2 linked regions of the Homo sapiens genome follow. The protein of the gene in region 1 purifies or fractionates together with the protein of each later gene. This does not show direct contact. Each region holds a gene or a part of one and is shown on either strand. Other genes may lie near its edges.

The links.
Region 2: the proteins of UGGT2 (region 1) and THUMPD3 purify together in Homo sapiens (affinity purification with mass spectrometry; one large-scale study listed by BioGRID and IntAct). This does not show direct contact.

The regions. Positions count from the first base shown.
Region 1 is NC_000013.11:95,856,811-95,862,182, reverse strand, and holds part of UGGT2 (UDP-glucose:glycoprotein glucosyltransferase 2 precursor), read left to right. Parts: intron 1-1,299; coding exon 1,300-1,395; intron 1,396-2,507; coding exon 2,508-2,592; intron 2,593-5,372. UniProt on the Homo sapiens protein: Recognizes glycoproteins with minor folding defects. Reglucosylates single N-glycans near the misfolded part of the protein, thus providing quality control for protein folding in the endoplasmic reticulum.
Region 2 is NC_000003.12:9,375,936-9,380,929, reverse strand, and holds part of THUMPD3 (tRNA (guanine(6)-N(2))-methyltransferase THUMP3), read right to left. Parts: intron 3,112-4,994; coding exon 3,042-3,111; intron 428-3,041; coding exon 312-427; intron 1-311. UniProt on the Homo sapiens protein: Catalytic subunit of the THUMPD3-TRM112 methyltransferase complex, that specifically mediates the S-adenosyl-L-methionine-dependent N(2)-methylation of guanosine nucleotide at position 6 (m2G6) in tRNAs.

The sequences.
Region 1 (5,372 bases):
TGTTACTGTACAGTGTGTGCTTTGAACAAGTTACTGATAGAGAAAGGATCAAGTCCACTCATTGAGATGATTTGGAGGGTAGGTATGTTTGACAGGGGATAATGAAATAGAATCTGAGCAATTTTAAGAGTGTCTTACTAAAAGCTTCCATTAAAGTTAGAAGGTATAGATAAGAATGATTAAGGATAACTGTTCAATTATGGTATAGCCACTTGCTATATTAAAAGGATACCAAAAACAAAATGCTTTGTTAGAAACGGAGATGGTAAGTTTTTGGGACGTTAACTGCTCCAGATACGTAGTGTTGTGTGTCTTATGATGCTTTGACTTTTTTCATCTTAGTTTTAGTCCTAACTTAGAATGATTATTTTTTCTTGCCACTGAATCAACTTCTTTTCTTATTTGGGAGATTACAAGATTTGAAAAATACTTCTGTCATAACAATTTATATTTTGCAAAATAACTTTGATGGTGATTTAAGTTGTTTACCCAATTTTATTCATTCTAAATATCTGTTTATATAAAAGTATTTTGAAATAAATGTTTAGGAAGAAAAAGATGAATTTATACATTATGAATACTGTAAATAGAAGATTCAGTCATTTTTATATATGAAATGGGCCTATACAAAAATGAAATGGAGTTGGTCTAGCTCCAAAAATGTAATGAAAATGACAGCTGGGCCCAGATGACGCTACCATGATGTAAACCAGTAAGTAGACATGGTTCCCTAGTGCTTTCTTTGTCATGGAAGTCATCCAGAGTACCAAGAGCATACTCCATACCCTGCGTGGTGGAGAAAATCTGCTTGGTCAGAGGAGCTCCAAATTGTAGATGGTTTAAAAATATTTTAGCCTGGATGAGCCCCATCAGCAGCACTCACACACCTACCCTGTTACCACATAAATTCTTGCTGTGCCGTAGTTCCACACTTAAGCATTCTGTTCCTTCCCTCATTGACCTGTTTAAACTTTCAGTACACTAGATATGGCCATGTCAAGCTGTAATTCATTCTTTGTTCTGAAAACAACCTTTGGCAACTCACAAAAATTCAAAAATACCAGCCCATTCACCTAAAGACAATATAGTTATATTCCACATTACAAATTTAAAAAAAAACTCATAAAGCTTCAAATGATATTGTCAAATATTTTAATATTAGTTTGTAAATATTATAGAGTGTTTATAGCTTAACTATTTTGAAATACATTTCTATATTGATTGCTTATATTTACTATTTAGGCATACAATGTTTCCATATGTATGTTTAAGAAATGTCAATTACTTTTTTATTCCAAGTTTCACAGTAAGCTTGCATAAAGAAAACAAAAAGGAAAAAGATGTCCTAAACATTTTTTCAGTTGCTTCTGGTCATTTATATGAACGTTTTTTAAGGTAGGTATATTTTTTAACCTTATATTTTGAAAAAGAAATATTTACATGGTTCAAATTTCAAAAAAAAATAAAGGAATATACACTGGGAAAAAAAAAACTCCCACCTCTGTTTCCTTGATACTCAGTTCCTTTTCTCACAGGAAACCCATAATATTATTTTTATATCCTGCTAAGGAGATACATACACACACACACACGTAAATATATATGTGTATATTTATTTATTTATTTCAGTTGTTTAAGTCCTTTTACCCAAATAGTAAAGAACATACTACTTTACACCTTGCTTTTTTTTTTTACTTAAAATTATGAGGTAAGTATATATAAATATGAAATTTCATGAGTTTGGCTTGATTTGGAATATTGGTTTTCTTCAAGGCTAGCAAATAGACATTTTGGATAGGTAAGAATATATATATATAGATATACTCACAATATATATATTTACAGTACTTTATATATACAATATTTATATATATATAATTTACTATAGTAAATTATCCTTTTCCAGTGAAGAAAACCTTGTTTTATAAAAAGGAAGGGAATGAGGGGAGAAATGCATATTGCAAAGTACAAAAGGCTATTTTTAAACAGTTTATATAGAAAGGTCACAGAGAATAACTCAAAAATATTTGAATTGTAGCACTGATACGTTAAAATGGAACTTCAGATTCATTTGTATCCTTTCCATTTGGAGGTTTAGGTTAGCAAACCAAATGACCCATCCAGTGAATTTGTCAATATAGATAGATCATTCAGCTCTTCAGGGTTTGTAGACTTAATATTAATCACACAGTCATGGACAGCTGGGCCCAGGTGAAGCTACCATGATGTATATGTATTCATCCTTACACATTACATACTTGATAAACCATATTTTAGTTTATTTCTTCACATTTCATTGTGAAAACCTTCTAATTCATACCTTCAATTATTTAAAAGCCTTTAAAAGACCTATGTAACAAACCTGTATGTTCTGCACATGTATCCCAGAACTTAAAGTAAAATTTAAGAAATTAAAATTAAATTTTAAAAAACACTTCAAGGTTAAAAAATATATATGAGCTCCTGTTACTGTTAATGTATATTGGGTTTAATATTCTTTTATACAGAATTATGATGCTTTCTGTTTTGCGTAACACCAAAACACCAGTGAAATTCTGGTTGCTAAAAAATTATCTCTCACCGACATTTAAAGTAAGTACATAGCTTTTTTTGTAGAATGGTTAATGTTTGAATAGTAAATTATTTGTATCATTGTAAGTTTATATGATATTTCTCTTTTCAGAATAAGCTTTTTGAAAAAATGGTATTTAGTATTTTTATGTAGCTTAAGAAAAATTCTGTACAATTTTTATTTAGAGATGTTCAAAGGAGAGGACAGAAGACTGTATATTTTTAAGTAAAATCAAAATCAGAATGGCTAGTAGTTTTTCATGATAATGAGTAATTAAATACAATTTGGCAATGGAAAATATATACAGATTTTCAATTAAAAGAAATGGATTCTGTCATTTTTGCAAAGATAGGCAGAAACAGTAGTAGTATCAAGAAAATACAAAGACTATACCTATACCGTAGAAAATAGTTTTACAGTACTGAAACAAAAAAGCTCTTTCGTCTGTGTAGTGTATTGATTGCTGGGCACCATGATCTGAGGCATTTTATATTTAGAAGATTTCAGGTGATCAACAGCTATTACCCTTTACTCAGCCCTATACTCCTGCTACAAAGTATACTCTGTTTCTTCCTATTCTCCCTACAGCATAATCAAATTCCGTGAAATTTAGTGTCTCCGCAGCAATTTGGTGTCTCATTCAACAGCATTTCAAATGAGTTTGTTTTTTCTAGACCAAAAGCAGTGGGAAAACAGAAGTAAAACTAGCCAAGCATGCTTTTATTCCTTAATATTTCTAGGCATGATGCCAAGTGTTTAACTGACGTTATTCAATTGTTTTTCATAACAATCCCACATGATAAGAAAACCAAGATTCAAAAGTTACGTAACTAGCTTGCACAGTTGAGAGGTACCTGAGACCACTTTTAGATTCAATAACTTACTATAAGGATTTATATAACTCCAAAAAACAGCTGTGCTCACAGTTACAGTTTTTATAGCAAAAGGACACAAATAAAATCAGCAAAAGGAAGAGATGCTTAGGGTAGGGTCCGGGGAGACCAGACACAAAGTTAACAGTTGTCCTCTCCCAGTAGAATCCCGTTACAGTGGATAGCACTTATTTCTTCCAGCAACAGTGTGTGAGGGTACTCGTGGAGTATTGCCAACCAGGGAAGCTCATTCAAACTTTGTGGTACAGAGTTTTTATTGAGGGTCAGCTGTGTGGACTTGGCTAACGGCCTGCATGACTAACCTTAACCTCTAACCCCTTCAGATGTTGAACTGATGCTTTGTGGCCCAAGGTCCTCACTACAAATAACATCATTAGCATACAATATCTAGTGTGGTCCGAGATCTGCAGGTAAACGTAGACATTCTTATTAGTCAGGAAATTCCAAGGGTAGAGGATATTTCCTGGGAGATAGGGTGAAGGGCCAGGGTAGGGGATATTTCCTGGGAGATAGGGTGAAGGGCCATACTTTTCTTTGAGCAAGAATCATCCTTTATAGCATAGGCCTGATATGAAACAGCTAATTAGAAACACAGCTGAGATTTGAACCCAGGCATTCAGACCTCAGGTGCTTAACCTTATGTAACAGCCCATTTGCCCTCCACCACCAACAGTGTCTCCTCCTATGCTCATTTGACAGTAGGAAAAAAAAAAAAAAACAGAAAAAGAACCTATAAATATAGATAAGAAGTTATACTATTTTTCTACTAATTTTTTAACATGCTTTCCTAGTAGTCAGACACTGAATAAGGGAGTATTTAACCCAAATAAACTGAGATAGAAAAATCTAAAGATTCTCTTAGCAGGAAAAGATATTATTCACCAGAACAATAGTGCTATGTCTGGATTAGAAAGTCTTGTTCCACTGCATGGCCAAAAGAAATACTGTATCTGAAGTAGTATTTTCCTTCTTTTTGTGATGTGTTTCTTTCATTCAAAATTTTTCTTTTGAAAACTTCTTAGTGAAATATAACATATACTCAGAAAAGTGCACAAATCATGAAATTTAGCTTTGGATTTTTACAAACTCAAACATCTGTGTAAATCAGCAGCCAGATACAGAAGCCGCTAGCTACTTTAGATTTGTTCCTACCAGTTTAGAAAAGTCAAACCTCCTCTCTTCATTCAAATATTTGCTAAAATTATACATACTTACACATAATTATTTTCTGACAGCACTATACAAACTATAATTCCCTCTCCCTTTTAATTTTTCTTCATAGCACTTTTTTCTGTAGATAATAGTTTATTTCTACCTACTTCCTCTAAAATACAAGCCTCATGAAGGTCATAATTTGTATTTCTTTTGTTCACTAATGTACCCTTAGATCCTAGAACAGTGCCCGTTTCAGTGAATATTTGGACACATATTTAATGAAGAAAAAATATTCTTTTTATTTTATCTGAATGTTTTATTTTATTTTATTTTGAAACCAAAACAATGACTCCTGGCAGCTGTTGTACCCCTAATTTCAAGATTTCACAGATAAAATTGGTGCTTCTTGCATTTAAAAAAAAGTATTTTAAATCTACATTGTTCTTACAAAGTCAGAGAAAAAAATTAAACATATAACCAGAAACTAGTTTCAAGTAAGAATCAAGTGGTAAAACGCAAATTCTATATTTATTAATTCATCTTTTCCAATTCCTTTTTCATTTTCTCTCTCAGTATTTGAGCTCTTGAACTAAATTTAGCCCACAGTATATTTCATTAACTGCTTCTGCTTTAAACAGGGAATAAGCTACTTCTAAGCCTATAAGATACTCAAATATGAAATATTCAGACCATAATCACTACTTTGTATTTTTAATCCTTGAATTAAATAATGATATATCTCAAACATGAAG
Region 2 (4,994 bases), on another chromosome or scaffold:
TGTAAAAATATACTGTTTAAAATTTTGTGAAATTAAAATGAGTCTATAAAATATTCTTCCAATATGTAGGGGAAAAGACATATGAATAAGACAAATGAAAAATTGCATATGGTGGGGAAATTATCGCTAAAATAATATTTTAAAAATATAACTTATTTTCAATAAACTTTAAAAATGTAAATGGAGTCTCATAGTATATTCATTTTGGTTACAATGACGTCACAATGCACTGGGAGTTTTAATTCATAAAGTCAATATAAAAAGTGATTCTCTAACTCTAAAAGATGCTAAGAAATCTTTTAAATTTTTACCCTTCTTTAATTTGGCTCTTGGTCAATAAAGATGCAATGTTATTTGCTGCTCTATTCACAGCCAGTGGATTATTATCACCAGCAATATGGAAACAGTCAGACCATTCAGTGGCCCCCTAAAAGATAAGAGTGTATGTTAAAACAAAAGTAGCAAACTGTAAAATATGATTAAATTGTCAACAAACAAAGAAAATCCAGTGCTTTTCTAGAGTGGCAAAACATTGCATGTTGTCAACTGTGCTATTTCCCTGGCTGAAAATGCCCTCTTATTCTTTCTCTGCTTGCTGAACCTCTACCCATCTCTTAAGACCCAGCTCAAACCTCATGCCCTTTCAACATCAACCTTAACTCTCCAAGCAGTCTTATGTGCCCCTCCCAAAAACACTTTGTATGTACGTACCTCTGCCACTGCACTTGTCCCACGGTTAATTATTTCTTCCCCTTTATGCCTCTCAACTAACCTGGGAGCTCTCTGAGGTCAGGTCTAGTATTTTATTCAGTTCCTCATCCAGCAGTGTCTGGCACACTAAATTCTAAGTTAATGCGGTTTGAAAATATTTGAGATTTGTGGTTGTGGGAGTTTACATAATCTGATATATTTGAAAATTGCAAAATAAAATGCTATTTCCGGCCGGGCATGGTGGCTCACACCTGAAATCCCAGCACTTTGGGAAGCTGAGGCAGGAGGATTTCTTGAGCCCAGGAGTTTGAGACCAGCCTGGGAACATGGTGAAAGCCCATCTCTACAAAAACACAAAAATCAGCTGGGTGTGATGGTGTGCACCTGAGTCTCAGCTACTCGAGAGGCTGAGGTGGGAGAATGGCTTAAGACAGGGAGGCAGAGGTTGCAGGGAGCTGAGATTACACCACTGCACTCCAGCCTGGCTGACAGAGCAAGACCCCAGGTCAAAAAAATAATAGTAAAATGCAATTTCCTTTGTATGATAGGCTTTTGAATGGTAACCACCATATCACTGGAAGGATTTTGTAATTATAAATAAAAAACCTGTCAGCAGAACATAAATACCAAGCTGTCACATGTCATTTGTGGAATGAGGTGACGTGACCCTAGGCCTGAACAATGTTCTATGCAGATTAACAGAAGGTTTCTGACACGAAAGCCGGGAAAGGTCTGCCTCTGCTTAGGGGTGAGTAGCAAACACCTTTGTGTTCCTTTGTGAACAGTAACATACTTCTCATCCATGAGTGCAGTGTTTCATAACTTTTTCTTTTGCCCAGACACTTGAGGGTGATAACATACCCTGTCTACAATCCTACGATGACATCAAACAAAAGGGAAGTTGAAGTATCCCAGAATTTTGGGTGGGTGGGGATGTAGAGGGGACCTAGAGTTTGAGGAAGGCTCTCAGTGATTCCGATTCCCAAATATTCTTTTTTTTTTTTCCTAAACCTATTTGGATTTTCAGCATTGGAAAGAATTGGGTTTTATAGCATAACACTTCTAAATTAAAAAAAAAAATTATTCTAGATCAAGTATTTTATACTTTGGTGAACAAATCTTTATATATACCTTGTCAATTTATTCATAATTTTATTCATTTTGATCATATATCGGCTTAGGTTTTTCTACATTGACATCTGCATGTCTACTCTTACATGGAAATGGCTCAAACTTCATGTTTTAATTTTTTTCGGCCTTTATTTTTACTCGGAGCTCTGTTGTGTATTTCTTGACATGCGGTGACCTTACCTGCTATTTCATACACATATCATGATTTCATACTAGAAAACAACACTCTGCTTTCTTCCCAGAATCCTTCTTGGCCACAAGAAGGACTGGGTTTTTACTGTGCAGTCTCTTTAAGCCACAGTAATTTCTCTAGCTTTCACGGAACACAGTCACATGTAGACTTCTATGATTTCAGTCTTGGATTTTAACTCCCAGAACAGATACCATTTTCTAATTACAGTTTGGATTATTTCTCCCCTTGTGGGCTTGCTTTGGACTTGCTCATCTGTCCAGTTTCTACCCAATCATATAATCTGCTGTGTCTCCCTGCAGTTTATTCAAATTGGCTGTCAGTATACTATATGGAAGAACTACTATGTTTCACACAAACTTCAGTGATTTTACTGGGAGCTCCCTCTTCTAAATTCTTTAAAAACATATAGATGATACTGATTATTCAAGGGGAATCTACTGTGAAATATTCTCCATTTAGAAAATGCCTTTCCATTTCTTGCTTTGCTTTACACAGTTTTTATGAGTCCTCTCAATATCATGGTAATTTTGAAAACTAAGAGCATTTGGTATTAAGCTTGTTAGACTTCCTAAAAAATCCAAGTAATGTTCATAAGTTTCCCCTTTTTACAACTATACTTATTCCCTCTAGGAACTTAAGTGGATTACAGAGAAGAAAATTGCCTTCCTCCAGTTTATGCTTATGCCTTCAATTATCTTTTCCCATTCAAGTCTACCAGCTTGTCTGTTACACAAAGAGGACTCATCGGCAGTTTGTAATTCTCAGCTTCCTCTGTAATCTAGTGAATAGATGTCACTAACAATGTATCTAGGCCAGTGGCACATGGCTCTTTGAAATAAGTAGTTACATTCTTTACAAAAAAGTTCCACTTTCTATTGTTAATTGTTTTAAAACTCTTGGGTCCACTGATCCAACCATGGAGATTTCATTATGTCTAATTTGCCCATTAGGTCTAGAATATTCTGGATGTATCACTCTTATCTAAAAGCTAAAGAAATATGATTACCTCTATTGGTATTGCCCCAGTTCCACACATTGGATCGACTATTATATCATAAGGTAGAGGATCACAGAGCCTAGAGAAAAGAAAACAGCCTATGTGAAGACTCACTCAAAAGCTGAGGCTTCTATACTGATGATTCCTGAAGCTTTAAGATTGAGGACCTACCACACTAGCCCGAAGGAACACCAATCTACACATATTTTAGAAATCAATTTGTGGCCGCGCACGGTGACTCACGCCTGTAATCCCAGCACTTTGGGAGGCTGAGATGGGTGGATCGCTTGAGGTCAGGAATTCAAGACCAGCCTGGCCAACATGGCGAAACCCCGTCTCCACTAAAAATACAAAAAATTAGCTGGGCGTGGTGGTGGGTGCCTGTAATCCCAGCTAGTACAAAGGCTGAGACTCGAGAATTGCTTGAACCCAGAAGGCGGGGATTGCAGTGAGCCAAGATCATGTAAGATGCAGCCTGGGTGACAGAGCAAGACTCCGTCTCAAAAATAAATAAATAAATAAATAAAATCAATTTATAATGATATGTTGACTGTATATTCCATTACTTGGGGAAAAAAAATCCTTATAACTAAATCTCCTTTGACTATCTTCCAAAATCCCATTTCACTCTCAGATGAAATTTAGTTTGCAGACATCTTAAAGTACACATGTGTACACACACACACACACACACGCTCATGCATACTTTTTGACAACAGTGTTGTTTTCAACAGAAACCTGTATTACATTAAAAAGACTCAAAAATGTCTCAAGTCAAACATGCATCAATATAAGGTTACTGGCAATGAGACATTCAGTATTCCTTTCCTTCTGAATTTAAAGCTAATCTTGATATAAAAAAATTGCTCTGTGGGACTAGGTAATAAAAAAAGGAAAAAAAAATGCTTTACTTTGAGCACTTAGTATTTCCTGGGCATGGACTTAAGCTCTTTCCATGCATTATCTCACAGAATCCTCAGTAAGGACCCTGTTAGATAATTATCATTATTCTCATTTTAAAGGTAAGCTGATGCAAGGAAACATGAAGTTACCTGCCCAGGGACACAAAACTAGTAGGTAACAGATTCAAGATTAGAGGCATTACTGTTAGTGGCTTAACTGTTATCCTCTTTATGAAGCATCCCACCCTGAAACAGGTCAGTAGGTTTCTTCCCTTCTCTTGTTCTTCTAATCTTTTCATGTGCTGGTGTGGGACTTATCGCATGTATGATAACTATTTATCTCCCTCACAAGACAGATTCTTGGGGGTTAATAGTGGGTTCTTATTGTAACATTGGTCCTGCTCTATCTCCTTGCTCCTACTCCTCAACACATGGCAATAGAATCCTTGGCAACCCTCTTGAGGGGGTAAGCACCCTGTACTCCAAGCCATTCCTGATGGTCAGGGGTGAATATCTGACCAAAACAATGTCCATCAGATCCTCTCTTCCAGGAATTTGGAACAAAGAGCTAAAAGCCCTAGGCAGTGTGGGTTGGTCGTTTGGAATTGGAAATACATAAATTTAGATGAGAAAGCATGTAGATGAGAAGAGACAAGAGTCCACAGGCTCTAAGGGGAGATAAAAATGGCTGCCTACATTTCTGGTGGTTTTCCAAGATGTGGTTCCTACCCTTCTTGAGAACCAACATTCAGTTTTTCTGTAGAATCCCCAAGATTTCTCTTTATCTTTCCAATAAACCCCTCTCTGGCACAATTATCACTTTTTTATCCTAAACTTGATTACTTAGGTTTTAAATATTTGCACCCAAAATAACACCCTCTCTGTATCCCTGGTTTCTACCATATGCCTGGCAGTAGATAATGCATATTTGTTAAATTAATGAAGACTAGAAGATTTTCCTTTATCAAATGGGCCCAATTTTCTATTATCGTCATTGAATTAATATGTTAGGAAGATAAAAGATTGGAAGAGAAGGAATACAGTCGTGTACTGCATGACA